7 linked regions of the Homo sapiens genome follow. The protein of the gene in region 5 purifies or fractionates together with the protein of the main gene of each other region. This does not show direct contact. Each region holds a gene or a part of one and is shown on either strand. Other genes may lie near its edges.

Region 1 (3,500 bases), on a different chromosome or scaffold from region 5:
ACAAGGTCTAGAAACATAGAAACCAAATGCTATAGCAGTTCTCTCTAGCTGGTAGGATAATGGGTGATTGTGTGTTTTTAACTATTTGAAGTAAAATGTTCTCAATATATCAGGTTATATAGCAGCTTTTAAAAGATCTATAATATAATCCCAATTAAAAACAAAATGGGCTGGGAGTAGTGGCTCACACCTGTAATCCCAGCACTTTGGGAGGCTGAGGCCTGAGGATCACCTGAGGTCAAGAGTTTGAGACCAGCCTGTCCAATATGATGAAACCCTGTCTCTAACTAAAAATACAAAAATTAGCCGGGTGTGGTGGTGGATGCCTGTAATCCCAGCTATTAGGGAGGCTGAGACAGGAGAATTGCTTGAACCTGGGAGGCAGAGGTTGCAGTGAGCCGAGATCGTGGCATTGCACTAATCCCTGGGCAACAAGAGCGAAACTCCGTTTCAAAAAACAAACAAAACAAAATGAACTCAGCTATGTTCAGGAAAAAAAAAAAGACTAGGCTGGGCGCGGTGGCTCACGCCTGTAATCCCAGCACTTTGGGAGGCCAAGGCGGGCGGATCGTGAGGTCAGGAGTTCAGGAGTTCAAGAACAGCCTGGCCAACATGGTAAACCCCGTCTCTACTAAAAATACAAAAATTAGTTGGGCATGGTAGCGCATGCCTGTAATCCCAGCTGCTCGGAAGGCTGAGGCATAATTGCTTGAACTGGGACCCAGGAGGCGGAGGTAGCAGTGAGCGAGATCTTGCCACTGCACTCCAGCCTGGGCTACAGAGCGAGACTGTTTCTCAGAAAAAAAAAAAAAAAGACTGTGTTAGAAATAAAATGCCCTGAAAGTAATAGTAGTTATATCCCTGGGGTTATATGAAAGTGAGGATTTTTTTTTTTTTTTTTTTTTTTTGAGACGGAGTCTCGCTCTGTTGCCCAGGCTGGAGTGCAGTGGCGGGATCTCGGCTCACTGCAAGCTCCGCCTCCCGGGTTCACGCCATTCTCCTGCCTCAGCCTCCCAAGTAGCTGGGACTACAGGCGCCCGCCACTACGCCCGGCTAATTTTTTGTAGTTTTTAGTAGAGACGGGGTTTCACCGTTTTAGCCAGGATGGTCTCGATCTCCTGACCTCGTGATCCGCCCGCCTCGGCCTCCCAAACTGCTGGGATTACAGGCGTGAGCCACCGCGCCCGGCCGAAAGTGAGGATATATTTTTTCCCTGTTCTTTGAATGTTTCTGTATTCTATAATAAACCTGCATTAATTGTATAATCTGAACAAAACCAAAACTTACATGAAACAAAAAGTTGAGTCTGGCTGGTACAGGATGGAGTAGGGTGACATGTGGGAGGGAAGAGATAGAGATGGGTATGGGAGATAAAGTTTGAACTTGACCTTCTGGTCAAGAAGGGTCTTGAGAAAGGACTTATAACCTAGCAGGGGCTCCCTAAGAAGTTGTCCAAGGTGGGTCCAAGTTTCCCTGGTTGGGCCAGAACCCAAGGATGGCTCACTGATGCGGGTACCTTCACTTCCAGATGCCAGGGGATTCAGGGTTGGTCAGTGCCAGCCAAGCCTTGGCAAGGGATGAAAAGACTTCCTGGGTGCTCTTAAAGTAAAAGTGAGACCTCTCCCTGCCTTACTTCCCAGAGCCTTTTCACTTGTTTTCATAGAGTATATTCACATTTTGCCTTCACTTAGTTACCTGGGTATATCATTCCTATTCCAGATTTGCTGCTTCTTAGGAGCTGGGTAAGCTGGGCACCCCTGGGGACTTACAAAATGGGAGACACCACATTCAGCCTGTGCTGGGAGAGTAAAGAAGTTAACTGGATGGATTTCAGAGCCAGCCAAACTTGAGTTTTTTTTTTTTTTTTTTGAGATAGTCTCGTTCTGTCACCGAGGCTGGAGTACAGTGGTGCCATCTCGGCTCACTGCAACCTCCGCCTCCCGGGTTCAAGCGATTCTCCTGCCTCAGCCTCCGGAGAGTAGCTGGGATTACAGGTGTCCACCACCACGCCCGGCTAATTTTTGTATTTGTAGTAAAGACAGGGTTTCTCCATGTTGGCCAGGCTGGTCTGGAATTCCTGACCTCAGGTGATCTGCCCACCTCGGCCTCCCAAAGTGCTGGGATTACAGGCGTGAGCCACCGCACCTGGCCCAAACTTGAGTTCTAATCCCAGCTCTACTCATTAAAGCTGTGCCCTTAGGCATGTCATACCACCTCCCTAAACCTCAGTTTTCCAATCTGCAAAATGGAAATGCAATCTATCTCAAAGGATTTTGTGAAGATAAACTGAGATACTATTTATCTGGCACTTAATACCCTTATCTGACACGGTGTTCAATAAATGGCATTTGCCATCAAATCTCTGTTTCCTAAACGGAGCTCAATGTCTAATTAGAAGCACAGGAATAGGGATTTCACTGAACCTCTGTGAAAATCCTAGCTCTGCTATTTATCAAATGTGTGACCTTGGTCAAGTTACTTAAAGTCTCCTAAATTCCTTTTTCTCATTTATAAAACAGCAACATTCCAATCTATCTCCCACAAGGGTGACGCAAGCATCAAAAGTGATAAACGAGGTCAAAGTGGGCGGATCACCTGAGGTCAAGAATTCAAAACCAGCCTGGCCAACATGGCAAAACCCCGTCTCTACTAAAAATACAAAAATAAGGGGCCGGGCACGGTGGCTCACGCCTGTAATCCCAACACTTTGGGAGGCCGAGGTGAGAGGATCATGAGGTCAGGAGATCGAGACCATCTTGGCTAACTAACACGGTGAAACCCCGTCTCTACTAAAAATACAAAAAAATTAGCCGGGCGTGGTGGCGGGCGCCTGTAGTCCCAGCTACTCAGGAGGATGAGGTGGGAGAATGACATGAACCCAGGAGGCGGAGCCTGCAGTGAGCCAACATCATGCCAGTGCACTCCAGCCTGGGTAACAGAGCGAGACTCCGTCTCAAAAAAAATAATAATAATAAAAATACAAACACAAAAATAGGCTGAAGGCCAGACACAGTGGCTCACGCCTGTTATCCCAGTACTTTGGGGGCTGAGGCGGGCGAATCACCTGAGGTCAGGAGTTCTAGACCAGCCTGTCCAACATGGTAAAACCCCATCCCTACTAAAATACAAAAAATTAGCGGAGCATGGTGGTGGGTGCTTATAGTCCTAGCTACTCAGGAGGCTGAGGCAGGAGAATGGCGTGAACCAGGGAGGCAGAGCTTACAGTGAGCCGAGATTGCACCACTGCACTCCAGCCTGGGTGACAGAGCACGACTCCATCTCAAAAAAAAAACAAAAAGAAAAGAAAATTAGCTGGGCATGGTTGTACACACCTGTAGTCCCAGCTACCCAGGAGGCTGAGGCATGAGAATTGCCTGAACCCAGGCAGAGGTTAAAGTGAGCTGAGATTGCACCACCACACTCCAGCCTGGGCAACAGAGCAAGACTATGTCTCAAAAAAAAAAATTAGCCAGGCGTGATGGTGTGAGCCTGCAGTCCCA
Region 2 (3,500 bases), on a different chromosome or scaffold from region 5:
TTCTCTCTCTCTTTTTGAGACAGTGTCTTGTTCTGTTGCCCAGGCTGGAGTGCAGTAGCATGATCATCACTCACTGAAGCCGCAGCATCCTGGGCTCAAGTGATCATCCCATCTCAGCCTTTCAAATCTTTTTTCTATGCATATTTATTGCATATCCTGTAAGACTATACATCGTTTTGGTGTGCCTTCTCTTTCTTTCCCCTTCCCCTACTCCCCTCTTCATCATTCCAGTTGTTTTATTTTATTCAGAGATGGGGTCTCACTCTGTCTCCCAGTCCAGGGTGCAGCAGCTTGATCATAGCTCACTGCAGCCTCAAACTCCTGGATCCTCCCACATCAGCCTCCCGTTAGCTGGGACTAAAGACACAAGCCACACACCCAGCTAATTAAAAAAAATTTTTTTTTGGCTAGGCGTAGTGGCTCACGCCTGCAATCCCAGTACTTTGGGAGGCCGAGGCAGGTGGATCACGAAGTCAAGAGATCGAGACCATCCTGGCCAACATGGTGAAACCCCGTCTATACTAAAAATATAAAAATTAGCTGGGCATGGTGGCACGTGCCTGTAGTCCCAGCTACTCGGGAGGCTGAGGCAGGAGAATCACTTGAACCTGGGAGGCGGAGGTTGCAGTGAGCCGAGACCACGCCACTACACTCCAGCCTGGTGACAGAGCGAGACTCTGTCTCAAAAAAAAAAAAAAATTTTTTTTTAGCCTGGGCAATGTAGTGAGACCCTGTCTCTACAAAAAATTTGTTTTACATTAGTCAGGCATGGTGGCACATACCTGTAGTCACAGCTATGCAGGGTGGTGAGATGGTAGCACTACTTGAGCCCAGGAGATTAAGGCTGCATTGAAGTGTGAGTGCACCACCACACTCCAGCCTAGACAACAGAGAGAGACCCTGTCTCAAACAAAATTTTTTTTGTTTTAGAAATGGGGTCTTGCTATGTTGTCCTGCATAGTCTTGAGCTCCTGGCCTCAAGCAATCCTCTCACATTGGCCTCCCGAAGTGCTGGGATTACAGGCATGAACCACTGTGCCCCTGTGTACATTCTCTAATGTTATTAAAACTCTTCAAAAACATTTAAGAGATAGTTTTGAGTAAAATAACATATGCTGATTATAAACACTTTGTGGAAAAAAATTACCTACAGATAAATGCTATCAAACATTCTGGCTGCTTTCTCATGTGTAAATACATATAAGTTTTTTTGGGTTGTGTTTCAAACAAAATAGGGGTTTATTTATATCCTGATTTTTAAAATTTTATATATTGTAAACATTCTTCCATAATAGTATACATATATTTTAAGATTTGTTAGATCTCATTTGTGAGATCTATACATGTATCATAATTTATTTAGCCATAAAACCTACTGAGACAAGATTTTATTCAATTATATACTACTATAAATAAAGTCACAGGCCAGGCGCAGTGGCTCACGCCTGTAATCCCAGCACTTTGGGAGGCCAAGGCGGGCGGATCATGAGGTCAGGAGATCGAGACAATCCTGGCTAACACAGTGAAATCCTGTCTCTACTAAAAATTAAAAAAAAAAAAAAATTAGCCAGGTGTGGTGGCATGCGCCTGTGTCCCAGCTACTCAGGAGGCTGAGGCAGGAGAATCGCTTGAACCTGGGAGGCAGAGGTTGCCATGAGCCAAGATCGCCCCACTGCACTCCAGCTTGGGCGACAGAGAGAGACTCCATCTCAAAAAAAGAATAAAATAAAATAATAATAATAATGTTACAATAAAATCCTGGTTTGTAAATATGTGCCTGCATCACTAATTAATTCCTTCAGATTCCTAGAAAAGGAGCACCGGGTCATAAGATATGAATTTTCAGTCACATAATAACATGTTGCTAAATTACCTTCTAGATAAGTTAGATCAATTTATATTTCCACATTAGTGCATGAGTGATTGAATCATTCTTCAGTCAAAGCAACAGACTCATGTAACATACCTGTGTAAATGAAATCTAGAAGTATCTGAAAGATTCCTGCTTCAATTCCTAGAATCGGTACAACATCTTTTGAGGACTCTTTCATTCCTCCAGTGAACAAAGCTGCAAAGTAAGGACTGCTGGCAGCCAAAACCAGCCGATGAGCTTTAAAACTTTCCTGTCCAACTTGCAGCTGCACATCACAGAAATGCTGTCCATTTCTCATCTTATTGATTTGGGCCAAGATGAGTTGGGCATGTTTATCTGATGAAAAAGGACTATCAGCAGCCTTGGGACAGTCCTCATTAGCCATGATGACGGTAGATTAATTAAAAGGACTGTTGCCCATAATCTGTTACTACCCTGAAAAACAAAATACAAAGAGATCAAGCAACAAAATTTTTTTAACATGCTTTCTATTCACACATAAGAAGCATTCTCTATACTTAAAATCTACTTAAGGACATAAAACAAATAAGGACTAAAGTGTGGTACTATTACTATTTCTAATATGGTTTCAGAGAATGAAATAAGTAGGGAAGCTAAAATAATTGGAGAATGCTTCACACAAGAAATGGGACCTGCACTAGAAACTGAAAGATAAACAGTTAATATTAAGGTATGAGGAGAGGACACTTCTTGATGGAGTAAAAAAAATAATAATAAAACACAAAGACAGAAAGTTAACAAAGCACACATCACAGAGCACACATCACAGACAACAGCAACTTTCGAAAAGCAGTTGTGATCAGTCTAACTGCTTAAAATCATTCAATGTGTACACTTCCCGTAGCACACAAAGCCCTTCGGGATTCTTGTTATAATTTAAGACTCTGTTCAAATATAACTTCCTCCAGGAACCTTTCCCCATTGCTCCTCTGGAATTGTGGAAATATGTTCCCAAACTCATCTGAGTTTGTTGCTCACCCTAAGCTTATTGGTTTTACATTCTATAGCACAGGTCTACCTTATCAAATACCCTACCACCCTACTCTTAGTGCGCGCATGCGCGCGCACACGAGCGCGCGCGCGCGCTTCAGAGCTCCTTGAAACACAGCCCTTTAAAGGCAGGTACTATCTTTCATAGCTTTAGCACCAGTATATAACATATGTTAGGTTTCCAATGTTTGTGAAATGAATGAGAACAAGGAGAAATAACAACAGCTTAGGTTGGGTTTTTTTTTTAACTTTTAACTTCTCCACATATTATGTCAATGGTAACTCTCACAATAATTAAGAGGTGAGAAGAAAAGATAATCTTATCTAAAATGAGAGAAAAGGAAACTGAAGCTCAAAGTTTCCCCAAGGATACAATGTTAGTATGACAGTCTCAGTATCTGAATCCAGGCCTTCTTACTCTAAATCCAGGACTGTTCCACCATATCACACTGCATAGGAATTATTAGGCCACCGGACACGTTCTAAATTACTTTTTAAATAAAGAAACTGCTGGGCACAGTGGCTCACGCCTGTAATCCCAGCACGTTGGGATGCTGAGGCGTGAGGATCACTTGAATCCAGGAGTTCGAGACCAACCTGACCAACATGACAAAAC
Region 3 (4,243 bases), on a different chromosome or scaffold from region 5:
CTGCCTCTGGTTTGCCTTACACCAGTTCAAATAACCATGCCTCTATTTTTCGAAGTTGTCTTTTCACTCATCTCTCTTCATTTGGATTCTGTTTTCTGCTGGGACTCTGTAGAGTGGCAATTTTACTTTAATTTATGTGATTATTTCATCAATACCTGTCTTCTACTAGGCTTGAGCTTCACAACATTAGCACTTCTAGAAGTTGCCAACAAATATTTGTTAAATGATTTAGTGAGTTAGTGAATGAATGAACTTACATTAGAATCAGAATATACTACACATTGTGTAACATTTCTAAAATGTTCCTGCTACATTTGACATGGCACCAAGGTATTAGACCAAACATTTTACCTCTCTTGCTTGAAAATAGCCTTTGTTGTCATAAATACTTTTACTCATGACAATGATTTCAATTATTCCATTAATAAGTGCAATCACTGTGATTTCTCAATTTACAAGATGTAATTTTACCTAAGTGAAAGAAGTCATTGATGACAAGATGAGATTTCAAGTGGACCGTAGTCAGTTATAGCTCTAAGAACCAGTAGGAACACAATACAAATGTTAAGCAGAAAAAGAAGGCTCTGAATCCCTGAATTTTTCACATCCTATTACAAATGACACAGGTAAATGAATACTTAATGCTTACAAGGTGTAGGAGGGTTAATTGCAGAAGGAAATGTTCTCTTTTTACTACAATAAATTATCTACTCTGTGTTGTTGTCCTAGGCTTAAAGGACTACATGGGCCGGGTGAGGTGGCTCACGCCTTTAATCCCAGCACTTCGGGAGGCCAAAGTGGGCGGATTATTTGAGATCAGGAGTTCAAGACCAGCCTGGCCAACATGGTGAAACCCCATCTATTAAAAATACAAAAAAAATTAGCCGGGCGGGTTGGTGCATGCCTGTAGTCCCAGCTACTCAGGAGGCTGAGGCAGGAGAATCACTTGAACCCAGGAGAAGGAGGTTGCAGTGAGCCGAGATCACGCCACTGCACTCCAGCCTGGGCGACAAAGCAGGACTCTGTCTCAAAAAAAAAAAAAAAAAAAAAAAAAAAAAGGACAATGTGGGCTGATTCCAATATTAGATATGTAAATTACATATTAACATTTAGAGTTAGATAACTTCTACAAAATGACCTGGAAAATCCTGGTATCAGATCACTAGTAAGTATTTCCAGAATGGGGTCTGGAGCTCTGCAGATTTATCTTTTCTGGTAGAATCAAGATCCTTCAAACATACCAGTATACATTGTACCACATGACACCTGAATTTTAATCTTAAGAAAATTAGTTTATAAATATAATCATAAGTAAATACATATATCAAGAATCTTTATTTCATAGCACAGCATTTGAAAGCAACAATTTACCTATTGTGCAAACTCCAGGTGATATATGAGGTTGATATAAGCTCAACTCTGAGGAGGGTCAAAGTTCATCTCTTTTTTGCAGTCTCCTTTCTAGTGAAACCTCTACTATTTCTTCTGCTAACTTTTTCACTGTAAAAAGTATTCCAGTTCTGTTCATTCTAAATAACACAGAGATGGAGAAGGTCCAATTTCTCTAGTATGGTATGAGTTCGAGATTATTTCTAATATGGCACTACTTTGGATATGGGTCTGACTGATCTTATTATCCTGAATGATATGACATGGCTTCAGCAACAATTACAATAATACCTTGAAGGGAGGGGGTTTAGGGAAGAAGTGATTGAGCAAAAATAGTTAAAATGCAGTTATACAGCCAATTATTTTTACAACTAGAACCAGACAATTTGCTTTGCTTTATGTCTAATTAGGTGAAACAAAAAAATTCCTGTTTCCGTATTCATTCTCTTCGGTCATAACTCATATAGGAAATGACCACATCAGTTCCTTACTTATCGCTTCCCTGGAAACAAAAGAGCATTTTATACCTGATCCTGCTGTTGCCAGTAAAGAAAGTGGAGCAAAAATTAACCTTCTTCCATCCCTCTTTTCCATTTGGAAAACAATATTTTTAAGGGGGGGAGGGGAAGGGAATGATGCATTCAATATATAGGGGATAATACATTCCCTCCGCCCCAGACTCACTCTTTCCCATTCTCCTCAACATATCCACTTAAAGAGCGCTCAGTACGCTGAGGGCCCCAAGCCTGACAGAGTCAAAAAAAGAAGCATCTCTGCCCAACCTGAACATCACGACTCTCGATGCCTCGCATACAACGAGGCAGGGCGGGTCGCCCAGCCCCAGGGGACCGGGCGGCGTCTCCCGAGCCTGCAGCCCAGGCCGCGGGCGGCGCCGCAGCGCTCCCGGCTCCCCTCCTGCAGGGATCGGCCACGGTCCTTACCCGCCAGTCCGCCGCCGCCGCCTCCATCGCCGGCGTGGCCCTTCCTCCGCTGCAGGATGAAGTATGGGTTGGCCCTCTCGGTGATCCACAGCGCGTTGGCCAGCAACACCTCCTCCGGGTTCACCCACATGGTCCTGGCTGCCGCGGGCGGGCGCACAATGGGCCCGTGGGTCCAGTCCTGCACCCACCACCGCGACAGGCGCGCACTCCTGGGCACACGCGCGCCCGCCCGCCCGTCCGCTAGGTGCGGCGGCGGCGGCGGCAGGCGACTTCAGGGGGTGGCCCGCGGCGTCCGGGCCACAACAAAGCCCCAGCAGGCGGCCCGGGAGGACGGTGAGGACGCGGGCGCGGCAAGCAGCATCCTCCCCGCGGCGTCGCCGCCCCGCGAGAGCCCGCGGCCGCAGACGCCCGGCCTGGCACTCTGCAGCCCGGCTCCCGGCCCACGGCGGCGGGAGGAGCGGGAGGAGGAGGAAGAGGAGGAGGAAGGGAGCGGGAGGAGGAGGAAGTGGTATAGCTCAGTCCCGGGATCCGGCTCAGCGCCAGGCAGGGCTAAGGGCCACCCGAGCGGATTCGGCCCCGCGGTCAGGGCCAAGCTGGGCTCCGGCGCTGCTGCTCCCGCGGCGCCGACTGGAGCTCCAGAGCCCCTCCCGTCTCTACCTGCTCGAGCTCCCGAAGTCGCCGCGCCTTAACGCGCCGTGTCGGGGCCGCAGGCGCCACTAGGGAAGCCCAGCTCCCCGCTGGAAGGACGCTCCGGACACTGCGAATGAATGACGACAACGCGGCTCACTTGGAGCGGGTCCGGGTTTGTGCGGACTCGGTACCACCGCGGGCTCCGCGCGCCGAGCTGAGCAGCTGTGGCTGGCTTCGGGGGAACCTTCGGGGGAAGCTCCTGGGGACCGTGTGCCAAGCACTGGGCCCGACGCCCATCCCAGCAGGGAGGACGCCGCCAGCCTGCGTGGGTGCGTGTGTGCTGTTTGTGTTTAAGGTTGACGCTCTATGGGATAGCGCCACCCCTTTTCCCAGGAAAAGTGTTTCAAGGTTCCAGACCTGGAGCTCGGTTAGAGACCCGGGGTCGGAAGCCAACGCAGCCAATGGTCGTCGATGTTTTTGTTTCCTGCATCCCCAGGGCAAGTCATGCGCTAAACTTGTCACCGCTTGTGACCCCTCCCCCCTCTCCATTCCATTGTAATTAAAGTGGCCTAGCTAAGTGCATTACATCACTTCTTTCCTTGACCTGTAGGGCGTGAGCAATAGAGAAGTTGGAAGCGGCCCAAAAGCTTAGACCAACTAATTCACACCACAGCTGTTCCTATATCGCATTTGGGGCTTCGAAAACTGGGCATGGCAGAATTTTAAAATTTATCCACTCTTGGTAGATGGATTTTTTTTTTAATCAGTGAAACCAGAAACACACAAACCAGGGCAGCTTTATCCCTAGACAGTTTCAGTTTCCCCAAATACTTCGAGCTTCCAGTGGTGATCACAGCCCATCTGCCTACATATCTGATGACCATTTTTTTTTCCTCCCGCCCAGGAGATCTGGAGGATAGTTCAGCCAAAAAAAAAAAAAAAAAAAAAAAAAAAAAAGTTCCTCTTCCCAAATGATGGGAATTTAGCAGACTCTGCTTTGTTGTGGATGCTGGGCAATCCTAGGGACTTTTCCCTTTCCAAATGAGCAGAGATTCAAATGAAACCTTCTTGTGTGGGCTTCAAAATTGTGACTTTTGTAGCTCCGACTTGAATTGTTGAATTCCTTCAATTAGTCGAATGAGCAAATCACCAGCCATTCTAATGAGACTGCCATTTCATCTGTTCGCTTCCTACCGCTTGGGCTCTCAAGGAATGGAAGTTTCCCTTGATGTTACCACACAGACTGATCTGCTTCTTCCAGGCATCAGTGGAAACCTCATGTA
Region 4 (3,500 bases), on a different chromosome or scaffold from region 5:
CCGAGTAGGACCCTCTTCACAGCCTGTGCTGCCCAACTCCCTCCTGGAGAGGTCACAGGGTGAGTCCCAGATCTCCTGTCTCCCTGGCGTCCTGCTGGGAAGGCTCAGCCCTTCCCTGGGGCTGGCAGACCAGCTTCTAGCAGCCCCAGACTGCATGAGGGAGGGGAGCGGGCAAGGCTCCTGCTGGACCCCATCTCGGCTCCCGTGGGTAAACTGTTCTTCCCGTATCTAGGGCCAGGGGCTCAAGCTGCCCCCTACTTGCTGCAGGGGGAACAGACAGGAGATGCTGGCATTTGGAGGCTTCCTGGGAAAGGGTGAGGGAGGGTCAAGCCCCTGGTAGGCCCTGCAGGCACTCACTCATCCCTGTCACGAACTCCTTGAAGTTGATCAGCGAGTCCTTGTTTTCGTCCAGGAGCCTGAACATGCGCCCTGCCAGCAGAGGTGTGTGGGAGCCACAGGCCCAGGGTGTCAGGCTGGCAAAGAGTTCCCGGAACTGGCTGGCATCAATCCGGTACTGCTCCAGGTAGGGCAGGCTGGGGTCCCGACGGCCGGCCATTGTGCGGCTGCACCCCCAGTACTGGCTAGCCAGGTGCTTGGCCTGTGGGACACGGTCTGGTGAGACGGTCCAGCCGCTAAGCCTGTGGGTCGAGGGGACCCCTAGGCTGGTGGTGTGTCCACCCTCCCCCTCTGTCCAAGCCTGCGGAGCCCTGGGGCGGTAAGCACGGGCCAGACACTGCAGCACCTCCCGAAAGCTCTCAGGCTGTCATCAGCCCCTTGTTAACAGATGGGGAGGGGGTTGGCTGAGAGACAGAGTCCTTGGCAGCCTGCAGGGGGCAGAGCTGGTCTGCTGGCCCCAGAGAAGGGCTGAGCCTTCCTGGCAGGGCTCCAGGGAAACAAGAGGCCTGAGGCTTGCTCTCGCTCCTATGACCTCTCTAGGAGGCAGGCAGAGCTGGCTCAACTGTTGTGACGCTAGGGCCACAGCGCAGCAGCCACCTTGAGCACGGAACCTGAGGCAGCTGGAGAGGTGGACGGGAACTGGCAACAACAACAGAAAGGCAGATTCCAACCATTAAGGCTGGGTCTTTTGCTAAAAGCACAAGGGAAAGAAAAATTCTCTTTGCACTGGGATTACTGAGAAGAGAGTATGACCCTGGAGCTGTGACGACAGTCCTGGCATGGTGTAGGAAGAGCAGTGCAGAGGACATCAGAGATGGGGAAGCCTGACGGCACATTTCAGCACCTGGATCCAGCCATGCCTGAAGCTGTGCATTGCTAGACTTTTCAGTCTAGCAATACAGGGGCAATGTATTCCCTCTTCTGTGTAAGATGACTTGAATGGATTTGCTGCCATTTAAGAGGTCCTGCCTAAACTCCAAGAGGGATTCGATTCTACCACAGGAGGTTCATGGCAACTGCATCTGAGGATGCACTTAGATCTGTTTCTGTTTTTCTATTCTATTCCCTATTTCTATCTACTTCTAAGAGGATACTCTTAGATCCATTTCTTTTCTGGCAGGAAGCTAGGAAGCTAGGAACGGGTCCTGCCCTGGCTCTGAGCTGTCACCTTAAACACCATGTAAAGGTCCTCCAGCTCTTCAATGGAGAAACCAATGTCCACAGGTATAGCTCGGACCTAGAAGGAAGGAGAAACAGGGTATATAGCTGGATCACAAGCTCCTGGCACAGAAGTACGGCACTCTGTGAGAGCATCCTCGGCAGACAAGGGCAAGGGTGTGAACCGCCCTCTCAGTGGCCCAGCACTCAAGGGCGGACCCTTCGGGAGAGAGCGAGGCCCACAGCCCATCCCTGGCCCCCCACCTACCACTCAGCTCACACTCCGGGCTCCTTTCCAGGATGGGCGTGGGGGAGTCTCTCTCTCACACTCCGGGCCCCTTCCCAGGATGGGCGTGGGGGAGCCTCTCTCTCACACTCCGGGCCCCTTCCCAGGATGGGCTTGGGGGAGCCTCTCTCTCACACTCCGGGCCCCTTCCCAGGATGGGCGTGGGGGAGTCTCTCTCTCACACTCCGGGCCCCTTCCCAGGATGGGCGTGGGGGAGCCTCTCTCTCACACTCCGGGCCCCTTCCCAGGATGGGCGTGGGGGAGCCTCTCTCTCACACTCCGGGCCCCTTCCCAGGATGGGCGTGGGGGAGCCTCTCTCTCACACTCCGGGCCCCTTCCCAGGATGGGCGTGGGGGAGCCTCTCTCTCACACTCCGGGCCCCTTCCCAGGATGGGCGTGGGGGAGCCTCTCTCTCACACTCCGGGCCCCTTCCCAGGATGGGCGTGGGGGAGCCTCTGTCCTCAACGTGCAGCTGAGGTCGCAGAGTGAGGGATACTCATTTGGCTCCCGTCATCTGGATCCCTGCAGAGACCCTGGTGCCAGCTCTGTGGAAGGAGGCCGAGAACCTGCCAGCCAATGCTCCTGTACTTTAATTGGCCAAAGCAGTCAGTCTGTGGTGCTGCGACCCAATGTCCTTACAGTGTCCTACAAGCCTGCAGGAGGGCTGGGAATGTGGAAACAATGGAGGAAGTCCCTGCCTTTGGGGGCAGAGACCACAAACAGGTCTTGCAGCACAGGGTGGCAGGGAGGGCCTGGCCCCTCTAGAGATGAGAACAGCAGCTTGTGGCAGACACATGCCATTTGGGGTGTGCGGAGGATGGCGGCATGTTGCTACCTGGGAGTGGGGCAGGGAACACATGGGAAGCCAGGCTGGGCGGGCTCGGCCCAGAGGGCTGGGCATGTGGCTTTCAGGGTGGGAGCCATCTGAGAAGCTTCCCGGTGACACATCCACCAGCAGAGAAAAGTGACTGGAACCTCTCCCCACATTCCCACCTACACCCCTGGATCCCGGTCCCATGAATCCTACCATGATGTACATACCAAAGCAGTGTAGGAGACTGGGTGCGGTGGAGCCCTGTACCCACCCTGCTCTGTGGGGAAGGCACTGCTGCCCCCCCAGCCCAGCCCCTGCCCAGCCCTGCTGGCACCCATACCACACTCCTCTTGGCCGTGTCCTCCAAGGACTGGATCACTTTCAGCCTCTGTTTAAACCGCATCTGCTCAATGTCTTCGGCCCTCAGGCTGCTGAATTTCTATAGGGAGAGGTGACTTGGTGAGATCAAGCCAACTGCAGGGCAGAGGGCCACCACCTGCCCATAGCCACCCCAACCCACATGCCAGATGGAGCGGCCTGGCCAAAATGGCCCCACTGGGTGCTGACCTCATAGGACACTTTCAGGAGCTCAAAGATGTCCACCTCTGCAGGGGGGTCATCGCTGCTGCTCAGCAAGGCACGGAGGTGCGGGATAGGAGGAGAGACACTCTGCTTGTTGACCACATTATCCAGGTATCTGCAAAGGACAGAGGACAACAGTCCAGACCACGCCCAGGCAGAGGGAGCCTCCTTCCCACAGCTGGGTGATGCGGAGGGACCCAATCTTTATGCAGACTCCTAATAAGGAGTGTGCAGAGGACTGGGCACCCTGCAGGAGGGCAGAGG
Region 5 (4,002 bases):
AATTACCATCCTGCCTTGCTTAACAACAGTAATATTTAATTGCTTAAAGACTGTGAGTGGGATAAATGGATAGCCTTTAATCATTAAAGAAAAAATAATTGATAAAATGTCTCTCGTTTTCCTTTTCTCTCTTGTGAGTTGCTCCTTCAAACACCCATCTTTTAAAACATGAGAGATATCCAGCTTAAGACTCACCATGGGCCTCGGCTAAATCTTCATGAATTTGATGAGGTTAAGAAAGCAACTACATTTCCTAAGAAAGCAACTATTTTAAAAGAGCAAACCTGGGTGTGGGGAGGGATTAGGAGTAGAGTTTGGGATGGCAGCCTCAGAAGGACAAACTTAGGCCAAGGAGGGAGGGAGTTGGGGTGGAGACTGAGCTTCTCCAGTTGGAGGTCTGGAGCTAGGACTCTTCATTGAAACCGGAGAGAAGGAAAAGGAGAGAGTGAGGCTGACTTTTTAACTGAACTCCAAAATTCTCTGAGCAATAGAATGGGCCTAATATGTACCAGGTGGGATTTAATTTTAAATGAAAGAAAAATGTTTCAGATAGCAGGGACTGTTAAAACATTGAAATTGAATGTTGTGGATCTCCTGCTGTGTTGGTTTTCAGTATTTTTTAGAGCTTTGTTATCCAGTATTATAGTCCAATTTAGGCTAAGGAACAGAATAAATTTCCTAAGAGCTGTAATTTGTGTTTTCATGTGCTTTCCCCAAAGTATTATCAACTGCTATTTGATATCCTGTCCTTTGGGCATATTTTTGTTGTTGTTGTTGTTAATGATGGTGGTGCTTTTTTGTTTGTTTGTTTTAAGAAATGAAAAGAAAAGATTGGCAAGTCCCTGGAGAGACATTATCCCCCCACCCCCCGCCAAATTTTATCTATTGCGAACAGCAGAAATACCAGCATGTTCAGATCTAAAAGCAGTCTGTTTCTTCTCCAGGTTAAAAAAATATATACTTCTTATGACTCTGGACTTAAATTTGACTTTTTAAAAATAAGAAAAATTAAAGAAGGGTAGGAAATATTGGTCACATCTCCGCGTGATTCTAGGTCCTCACTTCTGCTACCCAGTAATTAAAATACCCTGCGTTATCCTTTAGAAATTACACGCCTGTGTCTTTAACAAACTGTAAGAGAGAAGGGGGCGGGTCTCGGGAACGGCGAAGGCTCTGATTGGCCCTCCTGGCAGGAACTGGGCGGTAAAATAGCCCTTCTGTTACTGTCCGGGGCTGCGGGGTGAGAGGCCAGGGCCGAGAAGGGCTTCAGGACGCGGGAGGCGCACTTGCTTCAAGTCGCGGGCGTGGGAACGGGGTTGCAAAACGGGGCCTCTTTGTCCGGGTGGGTTAAGGGCCCTGGCAGCTTTTTCGCGAAGGCGCCATGTCCTAGCAGTTGGGCCGCAGTGGGCCCGAGGTCCACTCGGACCGCCGAGACGGCTCGATGGCCCTGGAGCTGGAGGAAGGGGGATACCTGGGCGCCGCCGCCGCCCTCGCAACTCGGCCGAGGCCCCTATCTCAACCTAGTTTCTGTTTTTCCCCTGTTCTGCAGGCTTGCTTCCGGCGTCATGGCTCAAAGGGCCTTCCCGAATCCTTATGCTGATTATAACAAATCCCTGGCCGAAGGCTACTTTGATGCTGCCGGGAGGGTGAGTTTAGGATATGTCTGCCTGCATCCCTGCCTCTCCCCACGGTGTTCGGAAAGGTGCTCATTTTTGCCTGAGAGAGTTGAGCATCCCCCTTTAAAAAAATACATGATTCGACGATAAATACGTAAATTATTTAAAAATACATGTTAATATATACAAATTGAGCTCTAACATAATGTTAAATGTGTCATTGTTAACATTATTAATTGAAATAAACTCAATTATTGATAGTATAAATTTTAAAAATTGGCAAATATGTAGTTTACTATGTAATTGGCATTTTTTAATGTATTTTGGTTTGCTTCTTAAAAAGAGGTGAAGAATCCTAACGGTATTCACATGTGCCGTGTTACTCCTTTGTGATTATACACAAGTGCGTTCAGGGTAATGATGAGAGCAAACGGTGGTGTATGGTAAGGACGTCTTTAAACTGTTAGTGCTTAGAGAATTTGGGGACCTAGGAAACCTGAAGTTCTTTGTACCGGTGTCACTCCACAGGGCATATCCACAGCTGGAAAACAAAAAAAAAGAAACTTGTAAATTAAACTGGTTAGCATGTCACAAATCACTGTGCAAAAGAGAACCTGGATGTAAAATACTAGGGGCCTGTGTTTTCTCATGCCTCATTGGGTGAACATAATTGTTAAGAGGGAATACAGATATTTTTAAGAATACCTACTTTTGGCTGGGTGCAGTGGCTCACACCATTAATCCCGACACTTTGGGAAATCAAGGCAGGAGGATTGCTTAAGGCCACGAGTTTGAGACCAGCCTGTGCAACACAGCAGGACCTTATCTCTACTAAAATTTTTTTAAAAATTAGCCAGGTGTGGTGGAAAGCTTGTAGTCCCAGCTACTTGGGAGGCTGAGGCGGGAGAATTGCTGGAGCCTAGGAGATTCGAGGCTGTAGTGAGCTATGATTGCACCACTGCACTCTAGCCTGGGTGACAGAGACCCTGTCTCTAAAAAATAAAAAAATAAAATTTAGTTTTGAAAATGAGTTAAGTTGGAAACAAGGCACACGCTTTAAAAATTTTACCAGTTTATTTCTTTGAAACTTGTCAGCCATACAAAAGACATTTTATGTGATATAAAGGCCTTACAGATTTCATCCCTGTCAAATTAATCTGTGGGTCTGATGGTTGTTTTTTTCCTTAAAACACTTGTCACATTATAGATTAACTTGGGTCAGTAATGCAGGTAGGAGGAATCAAAGAGATGAAGAAGAGGTGTAGGGTAGAAGGCTACCAAAATGTATATGGAGTTTGAGTCAATCTGATTATTTTAAGACTAGTATTAAGCTGCCCAAACAAAGCTTTTTATAATTATCTTCAGGTCAGATGGATTCCCTTTGGCCATTTGGGCCTGCATTCTGCTTAGCTGTGCAGATTCTCAAGCTGAAGTATGTGTCTTGTCTTGCGGGAGGAGGACTTGCTGCTTCATACTGACTTGGCAAAGAGAACAGTTGAGGATTGTCCTAGTGACAGAAACCTTCAATAAAATGTACCTATTTAGACTGCCTATAAAGTAAATGCTTTTTATGAATTTAACCCTTTATTTATTTATTTATTTATTTTTATTTTTATTTTTTTAGACGGAGTCTCACCCTGAGCCCAGGCTGGAGTGCAGAGGCACAGTCTTGGCTCACTGCAACTTCTGCCTCCCAGGCCCAAGTGACTCTCATGCCCCAGCCTCCTGAGTAGCTGGGATTACAGGTGCACACCACCGCACCTGGCTAATTTTTTTTTTTTTTTGTATTTTTAGTAGAGGCAGGGTTTCACCATGTTGGCCAGGCTGGTGTCGAACTCCTGACCTCAAGTGATCCACCCATCTCAGCCTCCCAAAGTGCCGGGATTACAGGTGTGAGCCACCATGTCGGGCCAAATTTAACCCTTTGTTTCTAAGGGGAAAAATTCACAAATTTAAACCCTGACCCAAGAGTAATAATGTAGTTTATTGCCTAACGTAGTTTTTGGACAGGTCCTAGAAAGGAAGTAGCATACCAGTTCTAAAATTGTGTAATGTTGAACACGGAGGATCAAACCCTGGAGATCTGTCCTCCTTAATTTCTTAACACAAGATTTCAGTAAGGAACTGGTCTGTTTTCTGGCATCTGTCAGAAAAAAATAGAAAAGAAAAAAGGACTTTTAGAGACTTCAGATTATAGCTAGAGTTTGAATGATTTGGTGGTGTACCACAAGCAATCAATATTCTCACAGAGGTCACCTTTATTAAATGCAGAATGTGCCAAACAGAAAGTAACTTCCCTTCATAAGGCTGAGAGATTCTCATTATTCTTGATCTCTTGAAGGCCAGGCAAGATGATAAATTATATATGATCTATATACAGTAGATG
Region 6 (3,500 bases), on a different chromosome or scaffold from region 5:
GGAGAACTGGCTGACTTTGGTGCTGGGAAAGGGAAATTATAAGATAAGCCAGAAATACCTTGTTGAAACACCCACCCCTACCCCAGTCTGTGGAAAAACTGTCCTCCACAAAACCACTTCAGTCCCTGGTGCCAAAAAGGTCCGGGACCGTTGGTGTAAAGCAAAGGGTAAAAAACTTGTAATCAGAAGTTCTGCATTTGAGTCTTGACCTCAACTCTTACTAGCTCTGAGGTATAATAAGCAAGTTACTTGTGTTTTCTGAGCCTTAGTTTTCTCATCCATGAAATGAGAATGATAATGCCTAGCACAATGGATTCCTGGGAGAATTAAAAGAGATTATGTTAGAAAAGCACTCTATGAAATCTAAAGTAACATATGTATGTTAAGTATTAAATATTAAAGAGAAAAAAATTAGATTCAGACATAAAACCCACATTAACTTAAAATTACACAAATCAATTTTATTGTTTAAAGAAACCTCAAGTTAACTCCAGTTGGGAAATTCCCTGCAGAAATCTAAAAATTTTTAAATTCTCTTACCACCTGAGCTAAGAGCTAGAGTCAAATTTTCATATGCCACCTAATGAAGAATACACTGCCTTATGTTTTAGTTTTTTGTTTTTGTTTTTTCACTAGGAATTGACTTTTTTAACTTAAAGGCAAAATTTAAAGGCCTCTATCTCAATAAAAGAAATATGGGGACTTTGTAAGGTGTATTAGGTCACTTCTCACTTGTGACCCATAGATTCCTTAAACTGTTTATCTTGTTTACAGCTAAAGAGATTCCAGTTCTATTTTTCAGGAAACTACTAAGAGAAACTCCAGACGTAGAAATTCGGGACAAAAAAGTCACTCTAAATTAACAAAATTATCAAATACTTCACTATTTCTACTTAATTTTTTTTAACCTAAAGAACAAGAGCCTGGCACATTGACTACAGCCTATAGTCCCAGCCACTTGGGAGGCCACAGAGGGAGAACTGCTTGAGCCCAGGAGTTCAAGACCAGCCTAGGCAACACAGCAAGACCCCATCTCTTATTTTAAACATTTTTTAAAAGAATACATCAAGAAACAGGATTGTGCCAGGTGCGACGGCTCATGCCTGTAATCCCAGTACTTTGGGAGGCCGAGGCAGGTGGATCACCTGAGGTCAAGAGTTCAAGACCAGCCTGGCCAACACTGTGAAACCCCATCTCTACTAAAAATACAAAAACTAGCTGGGCATGGTGGCGCATGCCTGTAATCCCAGCTACTCAGAAGGCTGAGACTGGAGGCTCACTTGAACCCGGGAGGCGGAGGTTGCAGTGAGCCGAGATGGCGCCACTGCACTCCAGCCTGGGTGACAGAGTGAGACTCTGTCTCAAAAAAAAAAAAAAAAAAAAAAGAAACAGTATTGGTTTTTAAACCTAGAAGCTGAGGCCAGCCCAAAGACTGGAGTATGAAAGGTAACGTTTTACAAAACTGCAAGAGACGAAAACAAACACACACACAAAGAAAAGCCCCACTCTATTCACCTTGAGGTCACTCCCTGGTCACCATCACATGATGCTCTGAGGCTCATCAGTATATCCACATGAAGCAGTTCCTGAGGAAGTCTGGTTTTGACATGCCATCCTTGAAAACTTCACTAACATCGAACCCTACTCTCATAATCTACCAAAGTTTGGACTTTTCCATTCTCCCTCAGGATAAATTGCATCTTCTCTGAAACAAACTGCAATGGTTAAGATGTGGGTTATGGCAATAAAACAGTAACCTTTATGTTTTAAACAGACAAATCAAACCTAAAAGAGTAACATTAACAGTATTCACCAGTTATCTATTTGACTCTTCTGACATCAGGGTGTAGTGCTCCCAGTTAGCACCAGTCGACACAGTGTGGTTGTTTAAGCATGTAGCATTATTAGCACCAAATCACCTGGGCTTGAATTCTGGCTCTGCCACATTAGCTATACCTAACTGGTTTTCGGCAGGTTACTTAAAACTCCCTGTACCTCAGTTTGCTCGTGTGTAAACCTGGATCATGCTATCTCCCTCACAGGGCCATTGTGGACTAAATGAGAATTTCAAGCATTCAGCATAGTGCCTTACAAGTAGCTAGAGCTCTGTGTTGACACTATCATTATACCCAGCACCTAAGCACAGTGTCTGCACACAGTAGGTATTAAATAAGGTGAAGAATTATTATGCAAACAGATAGCCTTTGCCTATTGTTGAGGTTTAAGATGCCATTCTAGGCCATGCACGGTGGCTCATGCCTATAATCCTAGCACTTTGGGAGGCAGAGGCTGGAGTATCACTTGAGGCTAGGAGTTTGAGAACAGTCTGGTCAACATACTGACACACGGTCTCTATTGAAACAATAAATAAACAAATAAATAAATAAATATCCATTCCAAAAATTAAACGTTAACTTTGCAGTGGAAAATCACCATCACCCAAATCAGAAACATTCTGTACCCAAGTTATACTTTAGCAGGAATGCCAAAAATGAGCTCCCTAAATCCCTAATTCATAGGTTCTTTTAAAAGGAAATTAAAAATTATAATGCAAAAGGCCCAGGACATTCTGTTTTCACAACCCATTTAAAGCACAGTCTAGGTACATCTATCTAATTTTAGACAAAAATAAATGAAAAATAATTGCACATCACACTTGCATTTAATTGTAGCTCTAGCTTGATGTCCAGGTCCTGAACCAGACCGATTAATAGCTCTGTGAAGGCAGTGACCATCCCTGATTATCTTGTACCCCCAGCCTAGGGTAATACTACCCAGTACAGATTGGTACTCAATAACTACCTAAATAAATGTGCTTCTTAAAATAAAAAAATCCCACCAACCTGGCCAACATGGCAAAAACCCGTCTCTACTAAAAATATAAAAATATTAGCCGGGCTTGGTGGCAGGCACCTGTAATCTCAGCTACTCGGGAGGCTGAGGCAGGAGGATTGCTTGAACCTGGGAGACGGAGGTTGCAGTGAGCCAAGATCACACCACCGCACTCCAGCCTGGGCAACAGAGGGAGACTCTGTCTCGAAAAAAAATACAAAATCCCATCATGGTTATTTTTCAGATATCTTTGAAATGTTGCTTTTTGAACAGAAGAGTTTTCAGACACACAGAGACAGAGCAGGGAGATCCTTAGAAGTCATCTAATAACACCCGCATTCTCCAGACGCCTCCAAAGATAACATTTGCAAGGAAGTTACACTATCTACATCCTTTATAGGCTTCTTGAGATAGCTCTGAAGACGGATGTAACAAAACTGAATCTTAATAATACTTACAAAGAGGAAGAAGGTGCCAAGCTTCACAGCATCTGTCCATGCAACCATACACGGGGACCAGGTAGATTCCCCAGTTCCCCCAAGTAAGAAGCAGCTCTCAATTCATTCCTTCATTCAACAGACTTTTTCTTTTTTTTTTTTTTTTTTTATCTTTTTTGAGACACAGTCTGTCTCCAGTCTGTTGCCCAATGGAGTGCAGTGGCACAATTC
Region 7 (3,500 bases), on a different chromosome or scaffold from region 5:
CTGTAGCCTACTCTTGCCACTGTGTGACACTGTATCAGCTACTTAATCTTGAACTCAGAGCCTCAGTTTCCTCATCTGTAAAATATGGTCAATATTACTTAGCTTGTGGTTTTGTTACAAAGATTGGAGATAATATATGTAAAGCAAACCGCCCAGACTCTAGAAAGACTATAATAAATGATGGCTACTTGGCAGGATGGATCACTTGAGGTCAGGAGTTCACGACCAGCCTGGCCAACATGGTGAAACCCCGTCTCTACCAAAAATACAAAAAATTAGCTGGGTGTGGTGTTGCCCCTGTAGTCACAGCTACTTGGGAGGCTGAGGCATGAGAAAGGCTTGAACCTGGGAGGCGGAGGTTGCAGTGAGCCAACACTGCACCACGGCACTCCAACCTGGGCACCAGAGCGAGACCCTGTTTCCAAAATAAATAAATAAAAATAAAAATGAATGATGGCTACTTTAACTATCACAAGCCTGTTGGAATCTTTATTTGACTGTCTAACCATTCATTTGGTTTCCATTGGTGAGAACAAAGTAAGGCAGGCAACGGATATTTATAGGCCCTCCCAACCAGCCACAGAAAGCAAACAGGTCAATAGGATAAAATTACCTAAGTGATCAGTTTATTATACTCACATATTTCATTTCAAACTTCTTAGCCAACATTTCCACCTCTTGCCTCTCCTGATGTTCATCATTAAATGGGTCTTCTGTGTGAATGAGCTTCTTCTGATTCAAGGTGAATGGGAAAAGAAAGAGAAGTATCCATTAGTATTACAAATATTATTATTGTTTGTTTATTTATCATTATGTAACAACCACTTCAATTCTATTTCAATAAATGTGATCTGAAAGGAAATAAACTAGTGAGAATATATAACATGTTATATAATTAATTATATTATTACTCAGAGACTATATCTTAAATTTAACCAATACGAGACAACTTTTCCTAATACTAACAAGTAAGTCAGAAGTATTAAAACTAAAAAAAAAAAAGTTGGTTCATAGCAAAAAAAATTTACAGTTATAATGGACTCATATACATTTCACAGTGTTTTGATGAGTAAGAACTCAACAATCCAAATTGTCTTCACCTGCAAAATGATCACATGGTCACCTCATCCAAAATAACAAAGAAAAAAAATCCCCAGGAACACTAGCTAAATATGAAAATCTCACTTATAATTCTAGATTGATATCTTCACTAACAAAGATTAACTGCTTTGATCAGGAAATGCTTCTAAAAGGAGCTCTAGATTATTAATTAAAAGCAACACTTCAACCATCTGCCTGTGAGTTAACACTGAGTGTGTGTAGCGGCTAAGGCTTTCTGTTGAGGTCCAATATCAACAACCATTGTATCACCAATATTCTGTCAATGGATATCCATTCAGGGAATACACATTACTTTTAAACAAAGCTAGAAAAGAGAAATAGCTGCAAAAAGATTACATTACCATGCCTTTCTTCTAGTAGGGGAGAGTGAAAGTTTATTATAATACATGGTTTAACACACACACACACACAGAGCTAGAAGCTCACATTAACCATCTATTTAACAAAACAAACAAAAATAGCGATCACATCCTTAAGTCTTCTATTTTAGTATACAAACATATATATGGTTTTCAATGCACAAAAAAACCAAAACAAGGATAAAAATACTACTTTTATCCAATTTCAGACAACTGACTCAGGTAATTTAAAAAGGAAGGTATACTACAACTGAAATATTGATACAGATTCAATGGACCCTGAAGAGCAAGAAAAAATGCAGAAGGAAGATGTGCACACTTTGAAACTGAGACACTTCATCCTGGATATAAAGACTGAGACATGATCGGTCTAAAAAACATGATAGAAAAATGTGGACAGAATGAATACGAGACAATTCCTCACACTTGGGACATTAGAATAAAGGGATACTTCTTTAAAGGAGTTAACTTTAAAATCAATTTTTAAAATTATTGTAATAAGTAATAAATTTATAGAATAGTTCACCCCAACAGAAGCTACCAATGAAAGGCCAGGCGCAGTGGCTCACACCTGTAATCCCAGCACTTTGGGAGGCCAAGGTGGGTGGATCACCTGAGGTCAAGAGTTCAAGACCAGGCTAGCCAACATGGTGAAACCCCGTCTCTACCAAAAATACAAAAACTAGCTGGGTGTGGTGGCACACGCCTGTAGTCCCAGCTACTCGGGAGGCTGAGACAGGAGAATCGCTTGAACCTGGGAGGTGGAAGTTGCAAGTGAGCTGAGATGCTGAGATTGCGCCACTGCACTCCAACCTGGTTGAGACAGAGTGAGACTTCATCTCAAAAAAATAAATAAATAAAATAAAAATAAAAATTTACCAATGAAAAACATAAACATGATCCAAAAGGGAATAAACTAGTGAGAATAAACTAATAAGGAATCCTAGGCATGTCCAGGGTGTAGCCTTAACCAGAGGCTCAGGTTAAGGACAGTAAGCAATCGCCATGCCTATTACAAACTGCTCCCTCTTGCACTGTGAAGCCCAAATACTTACTATGGTATGACTCATTTTATATGTATAAATATAAACACATGGATCTATATTTTTAATAAGAATCACCTTATATGCCATTCTAAAATATTTTATGTATTTTATGTAGGTATCAAAAGTACAGCTCTTATTTTCTCTTGACAGCCTACAAAAACAAATTTAAGAAAATGGACTCACTTTTCTTTCACAGTTAAGAATAAACACCCTCCCCCAATCAAGATTAAGCTTTTTTGTTTTTTCAGGTGAAAAAAAATCTGAAAATTATCAACTACCCACATGCAAAACTGATGCAATAATTTTGTCCTTTGATCTTAACTCATCAACACCATTTTCAGGAGGTCTTTCACAAATTTCATCAAAAATACGCAAACAATGAAATACCATGGAATTCTCAAATAGTATAGTTACATTAACACACTTAATCACTTATTTTTCTTTTTACAGTAAATGTTCAATTAAGCATGTTCACAAATGGGTGTTCTGGTTAACTGATTTTTCTGGTTTACTAAGAGTTAAACCTTTTCTTGTGTATCAATCATTGCCAAAATTTATTTCTAAAATGCACTATTACCCTTTAGCCAGAAATGGTGACCAAATTAATCTTTCAGGATAGAGATGATTCCAATGCCAGTCATCATCCTAAACCATCTCAATCACAGCACTGTACTGCCTAGAGACAATAAGGTTAAAGGTTTAGCTAACCTGTGGTTTTGTTTTTCCTATTTTCCCAACATAAATTATTTAATTGTGCTTTCCTCATTAATACAAATAGAGCATAGAAAAATTTCTGATTATGTTCCAGTAAATCAGGGTTTTACTGTTCATTTAGTATTTAAGAAGGGAACTGATTTAAATGCACCCACATGAATGGTATCCATATGTAACACACCTTTTGTTGTTTGTTTTTTTTTAATAGCCCCACATCTACCAATTTCAGCATCTGGAGCTAAAATCTTATTTAGTGATA

What was found.
Region 1: the proteins of LANCL1 (region 5) and RANGAP1 purify together in Homo sapiens (affinity purification with mass spectrometry, with the first as the bait; one large-scale study listed by BioGRID). This does not show direct contact.
Region 2: the proteins of LANCL1 (region 5) and IPP purify together in Homo sapiens (affinity purification with mass spectrometry; 3 studies listed by BioGRID and IntAct, with this or other methods). This does not show direct contact.
Region 3: the proteins of LANCL1 (region 5) and TBC1D9 purify together in Homo sapiens (affinity purification with mass spectrometry; 3 studies listed by BioGRID and IntAct, with this or other methods). This does not show direct contact.
Region 4: the proteins of LANCL1 (region 5) and TBC1D9B purify together in Homo sapiens (affinity purification with mass spectrometry; 3 studies listed by BioGRID and IntAct, with this or other methods). This does not show direct contact.
Region 6: the proteins of LANCL1 (region 5) and DERA purify together in Homo sapiens (affinity purification with mass spectrometry; 3 studies listed by BioGRID and IntAct, with this or other methods). This does not show direct contact.
Region 7: the proteins of LANCL1 (region 5) and UBN2 purify together in Homo sapiens (affinity purification with mass spectrometry; 3 studies listed by BioGRID and IntAct, with this or other methods). This does not show direct contact.

The regions. Positions count from the first base shown.
Region 1 is NC_000022.11:41,276,188-41,279,687, forward strand, and holds part of RANGAP1 (ran GTPase-activating protein 1), read right to left. Parts: intron 1,831-3,500; exon of another isoform or gene 1,709-1,830; coding exon of another isoform or gene 1,696-1,708; intron 1-1,695. UniProt on the Homo sapiens protein: GTPase activator for RAN. Converts cytoplasmic GTP-bound RAN to GDP-bound RAN, which is essential for RAN-mediated nuclear import and export. Mediates dissociation of cargo from nuclear export complexes containing XPO1, RAN and RANBP2 after nuclear export.
Region 2 is NC_000001.11:45,744,154-45,747,653, forward strand, and holds part of IPP (actin-binding protein IPP), read right to left. Parts: intron 2,309-3,500; 5' UTR 2,259-2,308; coding exon 1,967-2,258; intron 1-1,966. UniProt on the Homo sapiens protein: May play a role in organizing the actin cytoskeleton.
Region 3 is NC_000004.12:140,753,586-140,757,828, forward strand, and holds the start of TBC1D9 (TBC1 domain family member 9), read right to left. Parts: upstream 2,801-4,243; 5' UTR 2,461-2,800; coding exon 2,331-2,460; intron 1-2,330. UniProt on the Homo sapiens protein: May act as a GTPase-activating protein for Rab family protein(s).
Region 4 is NC_000005.10:179,869,898-179,873,397, forward strand, and holds part of TBC1D9B (TBC1 domain family member 9B), read right to left. Parts: intron 3,352-3,500; coding exon 3,222-3,351; intron 3,094-3,221; coding exon 2,995-3,093; intron 1,634-2,994; coding exon 1,565-1,633; intron 599-1,564; coding exon 358-598; intron 1-357. UniProt on the Homo sapiens protein: May act as a GTPase-activating protein for Rab family protein(s).
Region 5 is NC_000002.12:210,473,960-210,477,961, reverse strand, and holds the start of LANCL1 (glutathione S-transferase LANCL1), read left to right. Parts: upstream 1-1,202; 5' UTR 1,203-1,342; intron 1,343-1,549; coding exon of another isoform or gene 1,550-1,565; coding exon 1,566-1,646; intron 1,647-4,002. UniProt on the Homo sapiens protein: Functions as a glutathione transferase. Catalyzes conjugation of the glutathione (GSH) to artificial substrates 1-chloro-2,4-dinitrobenzene (CDNB) and p-nitrophenyl acetate.
Region 6 is NC_000012.12:15,914,332-15,917,831, reverse strand, and holds part of DERA (deoxyribose-phosphate aldolase), read right to left. Parts: exon of another isoform or gene 1,516-3,500; intron 1-1,515. UniProt on the Homo sapiens protein: Catalyzes a reversible aldol reaction between acetaldehyde and D-glyceraldehyde 3-phosphate to generate 2-deoxy-D-ribose 5-phosphate. Participates in stress granule (SG) assembly.
Region 7 is NC_000007.14:139,234,237-139,237,736, reverse strand, and holds part of UBN2 (ubinuclein-2), read right to left. Parts: intron 733-3,500; coding exon 640-732; intron 1-639.